Linked DNA regions of Homo sapiens: region 1 is linked to region 2. The links come from fine-mapping of genetic effects on gene expression. A gene starts in region 2. The other region holds a variant in brackets. All regions are shown on one strand. Distances are between the middles of the regions.

Region 1 (5,374 bases), 120 kb after region 2:
AATTAACATAATTCATTTGTTTATTCATTCATTCAGAGACGTCATTTAGTCATTTCGGGCAACAGATCATTGATGCTTCAATCTGTGGTGTGTTTTAGTGCCTGGCTGAAGGACACTGTTGACCCAAAACTGGTGACCCTCAACCACCGCATTGCTGCCCTCACAGGCCTTGATGTCCGGCCTCCCTATGCAGAGTATCTGCAGGTGGTGAACTATGGCATCGGAGGACACTATGAGCCTCACTTTGACCATGCTACGGTAATGGTGGAGTCAATGACCAATCCCCTGGGGTAGGGAGCCAGGGCATTATTTATTTCTCTGAGGCAGAGCTCTTGTAGGCTCTCAGGGAATACTAAGTGAAATCTTAGAACAAAGGTTCTTTTTCCAGAAATATCTGAAAGCCTTAGTTTCAAGCATATTGTTGCTGACTCATTTTCTTGTCTGCCACCATCTCCCTTCTAAAATTTGCTGGTGAGGGAAGAATGTGGCTTGTCATGGAATCATCGGACTGCTCCACTCAGGGACTTCCTAGTGAGGATTGTCCTTCCTCCAGTAACTCTTCTAGCCTCATGATCTCAACTGGCCATCTTTGCTGATAATAGCAAATAATTTTTTTAAAATTTTAGATTCATGGGGTACATGTGCTTGTTTTTTATTTACGTATTTATTTATGTATTTATTTTTTTCTTTATAGGCAGCATCTTGCTCTGTTGCCCAGGCTGCAGTGTAGTGGCACCATCATAGCTCACTGCAGTCTTGAACTCCTGGGCTAAGTGATCCCCCCATCTCAGCCTCCCAAGTAGCTCTAGGACTACACCTGGCTAATTTAAAAAAATTTTTTTTGTAGAGACAAGGTCCTGCTATGTTGCCCAGGCTTGTCTTGAGCTCCTGGGCTCAAGCGATCCTCCCACCTCAGTCTCCCAAAGTGCTGACATTACAGGAGTGAGCCACTGCACCCAGCCATACTTGTTATATGGGTATTGCATGTGTAATGGTGGGGACCACACTTCTAGTGTACCCATCACCCAACTATTGAATGTTTTACCTGACACGTAATTTTTGAACTCTCACTCCCCTTTCACCCTCCCCCATTTTGCAGTTTCCAGTGTTTGTTACCTCCATCTTTATGTCCATGTGTACCCATTGTTTAGCCCCCACTTATAAGTGAGGACATGCAATATCTTATCTTCTGCTTTTGAGTTAGTTCACTTAGGATAATGGCCTCCAGCTCCATCCATGTTGCTGCAGAGGAAATTATTTCATTCTTTTTATGGCTGGATAGTATTCTGTTATGTATATATACCTTATTTTCTTTATCAAATCAACCATCGATGGACATTTAGGTTGGTTCCATGACTTTGCTGTTGTGAATAGTGCTGCAATAAATATCTGGGTGCAGGTGTTTTTTCTGTAATATAATACTTTATTTTCCTTTGGGTAGATACCCAGTAGTGATTTTTGAGGATTAAAATGACCTCCCCAAAATTGATCTATAAATTGAACCCCAGCTTTATAAAAATTCCAGGAGGTTTATTTTTGTAGAAATTAGCATGCTGATCCTAAAATGTATATGGAAATGCAAAAAACCTAGAGCAGCCAAAACAATTTTGAAAAAGAAGAACAAATTGGAGGACATACACTATCTGATCTCAAAACTTAATATAGAGCTACAGGAATCAAGGCAGTGTGGTACCAGTGTAAGGAGAGACACATATGTCAATGGAACAGAACAGAGTCCAGAAACAAACCAACACATTTATGATCAATTGGTTTTGACAAAGGTGCCAAGGAAATTCAATGAAGAAAATACAATCTTTTCAATAGACAGTATTGGAACAATTTAATATCTATCTGCAAAATAATAATGACTTTACACCCTTACCTTACACCATATATGAAAATTAACACAAAATGGGTCATAGATGTAAATGTAAAACTATAAAACTTCTAGAAGAAAACATAAGAGAAAATTTTTGTGACCACAGGTTAGGCAAAGATTTCTTAGATATGACACCAAAGTATGATCCATAAAAGAAGAAAACAACTGATAAATTGGACCTTATCAAATTAAAATTCTTTGCTTTTCAAAAAACATCATTAGAAAAGGAAAAGACAAGCCACCAACTAGGAGAAAATATTTGCAAATCATATATTTGGTAAAGAACTTGTATCCAAAATATCTATAGAACTTTTATAACTCAGTAATAAGATAATTCAATTTTTTTTAATGGACAGAAAGTTATTTGAGTAGGCACCTCTCCAAAAAGGATAAATGAATGGCTAAGAAACATATGGAAAGATGCTCAACATCATTAGGGAAATGCAAATTAAAACCACAATGAGATAGCACTGCACTCTCTTATGATGGCTACAATAAAATAAGATTATACCAAGTGGTGGTGAGGATGTGGAGGAACTGAAGCTCTCATACACTGCTAGTGGGAATGCAAAATTATACAGACACTTTGGAAAAAAGTTTGATGGTTTCTTAAAAAGTTTAAGATTCACCTACTTATGATCCAGCCATTTCACACCTATGTATATTACCCAAAAGAAAAAGAAAATATGTCTCTACAAACATTTGTACAGAAAAGTTTATAGTAGCTTTATTTGTAATAACCAAGAATTGGGGCTGGGCACGGTGGCTCAT[G/A]CCTGTAATCCCAGCACTTTGGGAGGCCAAGGCAGGCGGATCACGAGGTCAGAAGATCGAGACCATCCTGGCTAACACAGTGAAACCCCGTCTCTACTAAAAATACAAAAAAAAAAAAAATTAGCTGGGCATGGTGGCAGGCGCCTGTAGTCCCAGCTACTTGGGAGGCTGAGGCAGGAGAATGGCATGAACCTGGGAGGCAGAGGTTGCAGTGAGCTGAGATCACGCCACTGCACTCCAGCCTGGGCAACAGAGTGAGACTCCATCTCAAAAACAAAAAAAAAAAAACAAAAAAAAAACCAAGAATTGGAAACAGCCCAGATGTCTGTCAACAGGTGAACGGATAAACAAATTTTGATATATCTGCACAATGGAATGCTATAGAGAGAAAGCAGATAAGTGGGTTGCCTGAGGTTGGAGGTGAGAGCAGGGATTGACTCCTAACTGGCATGAAGGAGCTTTTCAGCAGATGGAAGTGTTCTGTGTTCTAAACTTCAATTGTGGGAAAACTCATTGAACAGTAGGCTTACAAGGGGTGAATTTTATGGAATATAAATCATATCTCAAACTGTTCCATGACAAAAAAAAAAGAGTATGTCTCTTCAGCAAGTAATTGGAACTCTGGCCTTATGATTTGGTATTTCTACAGAATAATTGTCTGTAATATTTTATATATTAATTTCTATATTTCACAGAGAACTCAAAGGTGCAATTAACCCCTCATATAGTACTTTCACTACTGACAAGTAGTTCTGTTTGGTAGTAGACAATTCTTTTATATAAGTATCTAATAAATTAGTAAAAAAAAAAATTGTATTGAGTACCTGCCAGCAAAGACGGGCACATACTCCAGTAGGTGTATATCAGAACTATATCCCATCTTTGATGCCCCCATTTTACTTCTATTTGTATTAATAGTGGAATCCTGCCTGTCCCTCTGGTGCCATCTGCATAAAATAATATGTTCTGTTTTTTTTTTTCTCAGTCACCAAGCAGCCCCCTCTACAGAATGAAGTCAGGAAACCGAGTTGCAACATTTATGATCTATGTGAGTATTGCTCTGGGCTTCTTACTTCATGACTGACTATAGCTCTACTTTATTTTATTGTTTTCAAAGCAATTTCACGTATTGATTTTATCTGGTACTCAGCGCAAAAATCTCCAGGAATTTTGCGAATTTCAGACAGCATTTTTGATAGGCACTGTAGGAGATGTAAAGAAATACAAGACAAGGTTTCTACCCTGAAAGAGGCTGACAGTGTGTAAATCTAAATATGACCTTGGTATGGGCAGTGGATTAGGATGGGAAGTGGAGCTCCACTGAAGGCCAAGAGATAGAGGGACTTGAACAACACAGGAGGAGGATCTGAGAATCTGTGTCCTTGAGGTCTCATGGACTAATCAGTGTTGAAAAACAACCCATAGATGAGGTTGTGGGGCTGTGGGGAGGGAGATGGATGAGGAATGAGGCAGCAGATTTACAAGAGGGAAGAACAGAGACACTGAGAGAAATTCAGCAAGTGCTGCCTCTGATGTTTAGTGAAAATTCTCTTCCTTATCTCTCTATAAAATCTTCAGTAAAATCTCCATGACTCCCCTTTCAAGATAAACCAATAAATTGTACTTCTCTCCTAATTCCTGGCCTGATCAGGATTCGGCCCCAGTCTGTATCATCTCACCTGTCCCCTTCCCTTCAGATCATGTGGGTTTACTTTCGTCTCTATGGACAAGCTTCCAATCACCTGTCACTGGAAGAGAATATTAGAATTAATCACTTATTAGAAGAGATACCTTACTGTTAACTGAAGGGACAAACATATATAAGGGTTCTATATAACAACCAAAGATGAAGTCCTTGTTTCAGCCTCATTAGAATAGCAGACATCCCTCACCCCAGCTTTTCCTCTTCTATTAGGACTGTCTCTGGTCTCCACAGGACAGCCAAGAAAGGGCAGTCAGAGGCCAGCATTCTGTGTAGTCTTTAATGCCAGCAATTCCAGTGTGTTTCTCTATGTGGCTCAGTTCTGTACTTCCTATGGAACTGGAAGGCTTCCACTTACAATGGTGTCTGGCCTCATTCTGATCATTCTGAGGTCAGCTATCAGGCAGGGGACACATCTTGGAGCTGCAGTTGGTTGCATCTCTGGTTGACCACTCCAGCTGTTATGGGAGGTCACAAACGGCGAAAGAATGAACTGCTGCCAAAAAACAGGGCATCTAGGGCACAATATATCTCTGTTCTTTATCCCCTCAATATCTCCTATGGCTGGTTCCCTGGTTACAGGGCCCCAGTTACTATAGCGAAGGTAGCGTGGGTATAAGAGCCCAGTAATTTTAAATGGCAAATGCATGTGTGTGTGTGTGTGTGTGTGTATGTGTGTGCATGCACTCTCATGCACTTTCACATGTGTGTGCATGCATGTGCATTTGGGTTTTAAGTATTTGAGACAGAGTGGAATGGAATACACTTTGGATTTGGAGTCAGTTGACCTAATCCTGATTTTGCCACTTACTATGTGGCCTCAGCACAGATTACATCTATTATGTGAGCTCACTTTTTGCCCTGTGCTTCCTCACAGTGTTGTTGTGAGGGTCTGATGAGATAATGTAAGGAGGGATGTCACTCTGGAAAGTTCCATACTGTATGTTTCTGTCATTGTATCCCACAGAGCAATTAAAGGAAAGGGTATCATAAAGGGGAATCAGTATCATGGGACCAGGGAA
Region 2 (5,384 bases):
GGTCCATTATATGTAATATTTGAAACATTATATTATATATATGTAGTAAATATAATACAGTCATGTGCTGCATAAGGATGTTTCGGTCAAAGAACGGCATATACAATGGTGGTCCCATAACATTATAATGGGGCTGAAAAATTCCTATGACTGAGTTGATGTCTTGATGATCCTCACCCAGTGTAGGCCTAGGCTAATGTGTACGGTGCTTATAAAGTCTACAGTAGTGTACAGTAGTGTCCTAGACCTTCCCATTCCCTCACCACTCACTCACTTACTCACTCAAGAGCTACTTTCAGTCCTGCAAGCTCCATTCATGGTAAGTGCACTATATAGGTGTGCCATTTTATATTTTTTATATCATAATTTTTATACCAAAAATTGTACCTTTTCTATATTGAGATATGTTTAGATATCCAAATGCTTACAATTGTGTTACAGTCCCCTACAGTATTCAGTACAGCAACATACTGTACAGGTTTGTAGCCTAGGAGCAATAAGCTGTACCATATAGCCTAGGTGGGTAGTGGGCTATACCACCTAGGTTTGTATACTCTATGATGTTAAGATGACAGAATCACCTAATGATGCATTTCTCAGAACACATCCCTGTTATTAAGCAATGTATGACTGTATACGGGGACCAAGAAGGATATTCTTTTTCATAACCACAGTTAATGTTGCCAGGCTTAGCAAATAAAAATGCAGGATGCCATGGGCAAATTCCAACAGAAATGAAAGCTCTGAGCTTTCCCAGACTAGGGGAACTACTACACTTCCTCTGCTGAACACACTTAGACACTGCTGTTGGATTTGATGGGTTCTGGGTCTCCTTGGTTACCCTCCAACATCCAAACAATAAATCTAATCCGCTGGGCAAGATTTCTGGTAAGCAGTAAATGTCTGCTATGATCTTGCTGATAAAAGTGAAGGTTAGTTGACTCTTTTTTTCCATGTCTTGAAAGCTCTGTTGATTTGGTAGTGTTTCTCAGAAATGAACTGAATAAGAATTGTCTTATAAAAAACACTGTTTAACAAATTTAAATATAACTCATCATTAGATCTTGTTAAAATGTAGGTTCTGATGCAGCAGAACTGGACTGGGGTATGAAATTTTGTATTTCTTAATAAGCTTCCAGAGGACATCAGCACAGTTGTCCTCCTAATCACACTTTGAATTGTGACAGTCAATAGATATTTCAAATATGCAGGTACCTAGGCCCTATGCCAATGTATTGATTCAGAATCTCTGGAGGCAGTGTCCAGGAATATTAATTTAAACAAACTCCTAGGGAGATATGAGAACCACTGATCTATGGGTTTGAAATATCCTCTATCTTATTCTCAACTTGTTTATTTTGTTTCTGAAAGCCCAGTGCAGGTCCCTCCTGCTTGATGCTTTTTTCATTGACCACCTCAGATGTAAATTCATTAACAGTTGTTGGCAGCACTTGCTATTTATCATGGGCTTTCTTTTCTTACATATATCCTGTCTCCTCAGATGTTACTTCTCGAAGTGAACAATTATATAGATTCTTGTAGCCTCAGCTCCTACCATAATGCTTAGCAGAGAGTAAATGTTTAATATGTATCATGGATAATAATGGTGATGGTAGTGGAAGATGAATTTCTCTCCAGGACACGTGACTGTTGCCCAGGCCTTGTGTGATTAAAAGAACAAGAGTCCTGCTGACTCCACAAAAGAAACAATCGTTAGCAAAAACTGCAACTCCCAACTATGGCACGTTTTTCAGAAACTGGTACCACAATCCTTTTGTACCTTGGTAGTTTGAATTTTATTATGGTAAATGGCACTTTAAAGGAAATAAAGTAATACTTTGAACTTAATATGTCTTTTATCTGTGAACCTCAAAGCAGCCTAATGCCATTTATTAAGTTACTGTACAGCCATGATGTAAATATTATCATACCTTCCTTACAAAAAAGCTGACTAGGGAAAGAGTTGTAATGTACTTGCCCAAAATCATAGCCATTCTAAGAAGGCCAAACCAAGAAACGGAGGAGTAGCTAGGTGGCTGACAGGTCAGCACTTCTCAGCATTTCCCAGACCTCAACTTAGGTGAGCTTTCCATAGGAGAGACGGCTAAGAAGTAACGGAAGACTATTTCAATTTGGGTGAACCAATTTCCTTTTCCTCCGTATTCCCATTACCATTGCTCTTGGTATCTTGTGATGCTTATACATTCTTATATTTAGGTTAAATGCCGACCATCTTCCCTCAACAACTTCCTTATCTATTTTCCAGTAATCTTGTTCTCCCTACCTCCTAGTTTACTATAGCAGCAGAGATATTAGATTGGTACAAAAGTCATTGCCGTTTTTGCCATTACTTTTAATGCCATTATTTTTAATGGCAAAAACAGCAATTACTTTTGCACCGACCTAATAAAATAACTGCCAGCTGAGGGGATCTGAAATGAGATTGGAACCCTAGTTTGACCGCTCACGAACTCGGCCTCTTAGGAGAGGTGTCTCAGGGAGTCAGTTTCTTCTTTGTGTGTGAAACGGAAAAGGACTACGCCCCTGTACCTTACTGAGGGATTGAGGCGATAGAACGCGATTCGTAAACTGCACAGCACTAAACGGATACCACTTTGTCCCCTTACTATGTCATTCCTTGTTTAATTTAATGCCAGGGCCACACAGCGCAGCATAACTAATAGGGATAGGGCGTGTCTGTAGGGAACTACCTCGAGGTAGATCTTTTTCTTTTGAGGAAAGGGGGAACGCGGAGCTGCTGGGAGTCGTAGTCTCGGCGGCGGTCTCCGCTGAGCTCAGACAAAGGAAAGAACTACAACTCCCGTGAGGCAGTGCGCGGACAGCTCGCACTGCCCCTCCTCCCCCAACCGGCGCGTGCCCCCAAGAGAAACTGGGGGCCTGCGCGCGCGCTGGGGACCTGCAGGGCAAGCGCAAAGGCAGCTTGCTAGTGGTAGCCGTGAGAGCAGATCGAGGAAAGGAGACCCTTGGCAAATTAAAAAATAAAAAGAACCGTGCACTATTGCCTCACCACCCGGACGGGCTGTAAACCCCCACTACTTCGGAGGCGTGGGGAGCGCGCTCCCGGGCTCCAGTCTAGAACTTCGGGGACTTAAATCAGCAAGGGCGGGAAGGGGCGGGGCCTAAGGCGCGGGGCGGGGCCGTAGGCGGGGCGGGCGGCGGCGGCGGCGGCGGAGCCAGGACCCAGACATCTGGGACTGTTGTTCTCTCGCGGCGCGACCGCCTCAGTCACTTCGCCCAGAGACCCGGACCTGGTCCGCTGGGGAGCAGGCGGCCATAAACCCCCTCTCTCCCGGTTCCCTGACGCCGCGGCAGGAGCTGTTACGAACACCCTGCGGTTGGTCTCCGATGCCCTTCAGTGAGGTGGGGACGCCTGGACCCTGGTGAGCGAACCCCAAGCCACCCCCCACCCCAACTCAGTGTCTTCGCCGGCCCCCGGCCCGTACGCCTGTCTGGTCGCCATGGCTGAAAACACAGAGGGGGATCTGAACTCCAACCTGCTCCACGCCCCCTACCACACCGGGGACCCTCAGCTGGACACGGCCATCGGGCAGTGGCTCCGCTGGGATAAGGTGGGTACCTGGTCAGCCCGGCAAACGCCGTCGCCTCCCCCACACAGTCTGCTCTTTCCTGTGCCCACCCAGCGCCCCGCGGGCTGCAGAGGAGATGGCTCGGGACACCGAGCGGGGGGCAGCGGAGCAGGGCGTTGCCACCCACCTATGCGTGGGGTTGCTCCTTCGGACTGCCAGAGCCGGGCGGCAACATCTGCATCGCTTCCTTCTGCAGTGCTCTCAATTGTAACCTCCCTTCCTCTTCTTTACCCTCTTTCCTTTCAAGTGCTGTCTTCCCTCTTTCTTCAAAAAAAAAAAAAAAAAAATCATCATCATTGTAAGTTATACCCTAAACAACGATTTCCTTTCCCTTTTTCTCCCTTGACTTCCTTCTCCACATACCTGAAAGTGGTTTCTGGCACCCTTACTGGGCGTTTCTAACCGCTATCCGCTTTAGTTCTGGTCTGGTGTGTTTCCTCCTTCTGTCGCTAGGTAGTTGCTGGCCTTTTATCACTCCCTGGTATTGTCTAGTATCACCTTTTGCTGTTGGGAAAGGCAAGGCGCTTACCTCTTCTTTCTCCTGCTGGCAGCTATTTTCTGGAATTAATCTGTTCAAGGAATCGTGTTTTCCAGGTTTCATGTGGTACTCTTAATACAGGATTGTTTTTGCCTTAACCATTACTTCTCTACCAACACCTCCCCACCCACCCTCCGCCCCCACCTCCAAGTTGTGGTGGTAATTAAACCTCGTGCGGGCATTTGGGATGAATTTGTGACAATCAGAATTAAAATGCAGCTATCTTACTTGTAAAAGAGGTCCCTGGTAGCTCCAACAGAGGAAGATAATCCAAGCTTTTGCTTTGTCAAGTGCGTAAAATACCTTTGTTGAAGTAGAGAAGGCAGCACATTTAAAATGGAATTAATGACACTGAATTAAGGAATTTGTATGGTAGTATGTGACATTATGTTGTACAAATGAATTTCCTTAAGGCTTCACTTTCTGAAAGTTTTGTTTTTACTTTATTCATTCATTCATTCAGCAAAAAAATATTGAATGCTGAGTGCGTGTTTTAGGTCTTGTTAGACCCAGGAAATACTTGTGAGGAAAATAGAAAGGGTTCCTGCCCTCAACAAGCCTCAGTTAGCAGATGAGGAAGACCAACAAATAAGCAACTACAATGAGGTATTTGGTGTTAATTGGTCATATGTATATTGGACGAATAATTCTTCCTCTACAGTCTAAACTAATGCTTCTCAAACCTTAATGTGCTTATAGATCACCTGGGGATCTTGAAATACAAATTCTGATTCAGGAGGCCTGGGGTGGGGCCTTGGATTCTGCCTAAGAATGAATTTCCGGCCGGGCGCCGTGGCTCAGGCCTGTAATTCCAGCACTTTGGGAGGCCGAGGCGGGTGGATCACGAGGTCAGGAGATCGAGACCATCCTGGCTAACATGGTGAAACCCCGTCTCTACTAAAAATACAAAAAATTAGCCGGGCGCGGTGGCGGGCGCCTGTAGCCCCAGCTATTCGGGAGGCTGAGGCAGGAGAATGGCTTGAACCCGGGAGGCGGAGCTTGCAGTGAGCGGAGATCGCGCCACTGCACTCCAGCCTGGGCGACAGAGCGAGACTCCGTCTCAAAAAAAGAAAAGAAAAGAAAAAAAAAGAATGAATTTTCAGGTGATACTAATGCTGCTGGTCTGTGGACCACACTTGGAGTAGCAAGACTTTTTGTTCTCTTTAGGTGCCAGTTTTAACTGTACTTTTCCTAATGAGTCTCCTGATTGATTTTTTTTTTTTTTTTTAAACAGGGTC

Evidence for each region. PIP is the estimated chance that this variant, and not a neighbour inherited with it, causes the effect. A credible set is the group of variants that fine-mapping cannot tell apart.
Region 1: its variant is the best candidate, but not a certain one, in a credible set for the expression of PGM2L1 in fibroblasts (GTEx, PIP 0.73).

The regions. Positions count from the first base shown.
Region 1 is chr11:74,271,869-74,277,242 of GRCh38, reverse strand. It overlaps P4HA3 (prolyl 4-hydroxylase subunit alpha 3), which reads left to right. Exons shown (of 13, transcript NM_182904.5): 9 at 99-258; 10 at 3,636-3,698. Among named protein-coding and RNA genes, the nearest start is that of P4HA3-AS1, 37 kb to the left of the region's middle. The variant G/A (reference allele first, on the strand shown) is at 2,651.
Region 2 is chr11:74,396,257-74,401,640 of GRCh38, reverse strand. It overlaps PGM2L1 (phosphoglucomutase 2 like 1), which reads left to right and starts at 3,208. Exons shown (of 14, transcript NM_173582.6): 1 at 3,208-3,590. The coding sequence starts at 3,480. It overlaps MIR548AL (microRNA 548al), which reads right to left and starts at 2,404; the gene lies at 2,308-2,404. RefSeq lists enhancers at 2,224-2,844, 2,744-3,113, 2,845-3,466, 4,558-5,057, 5,058-5,384.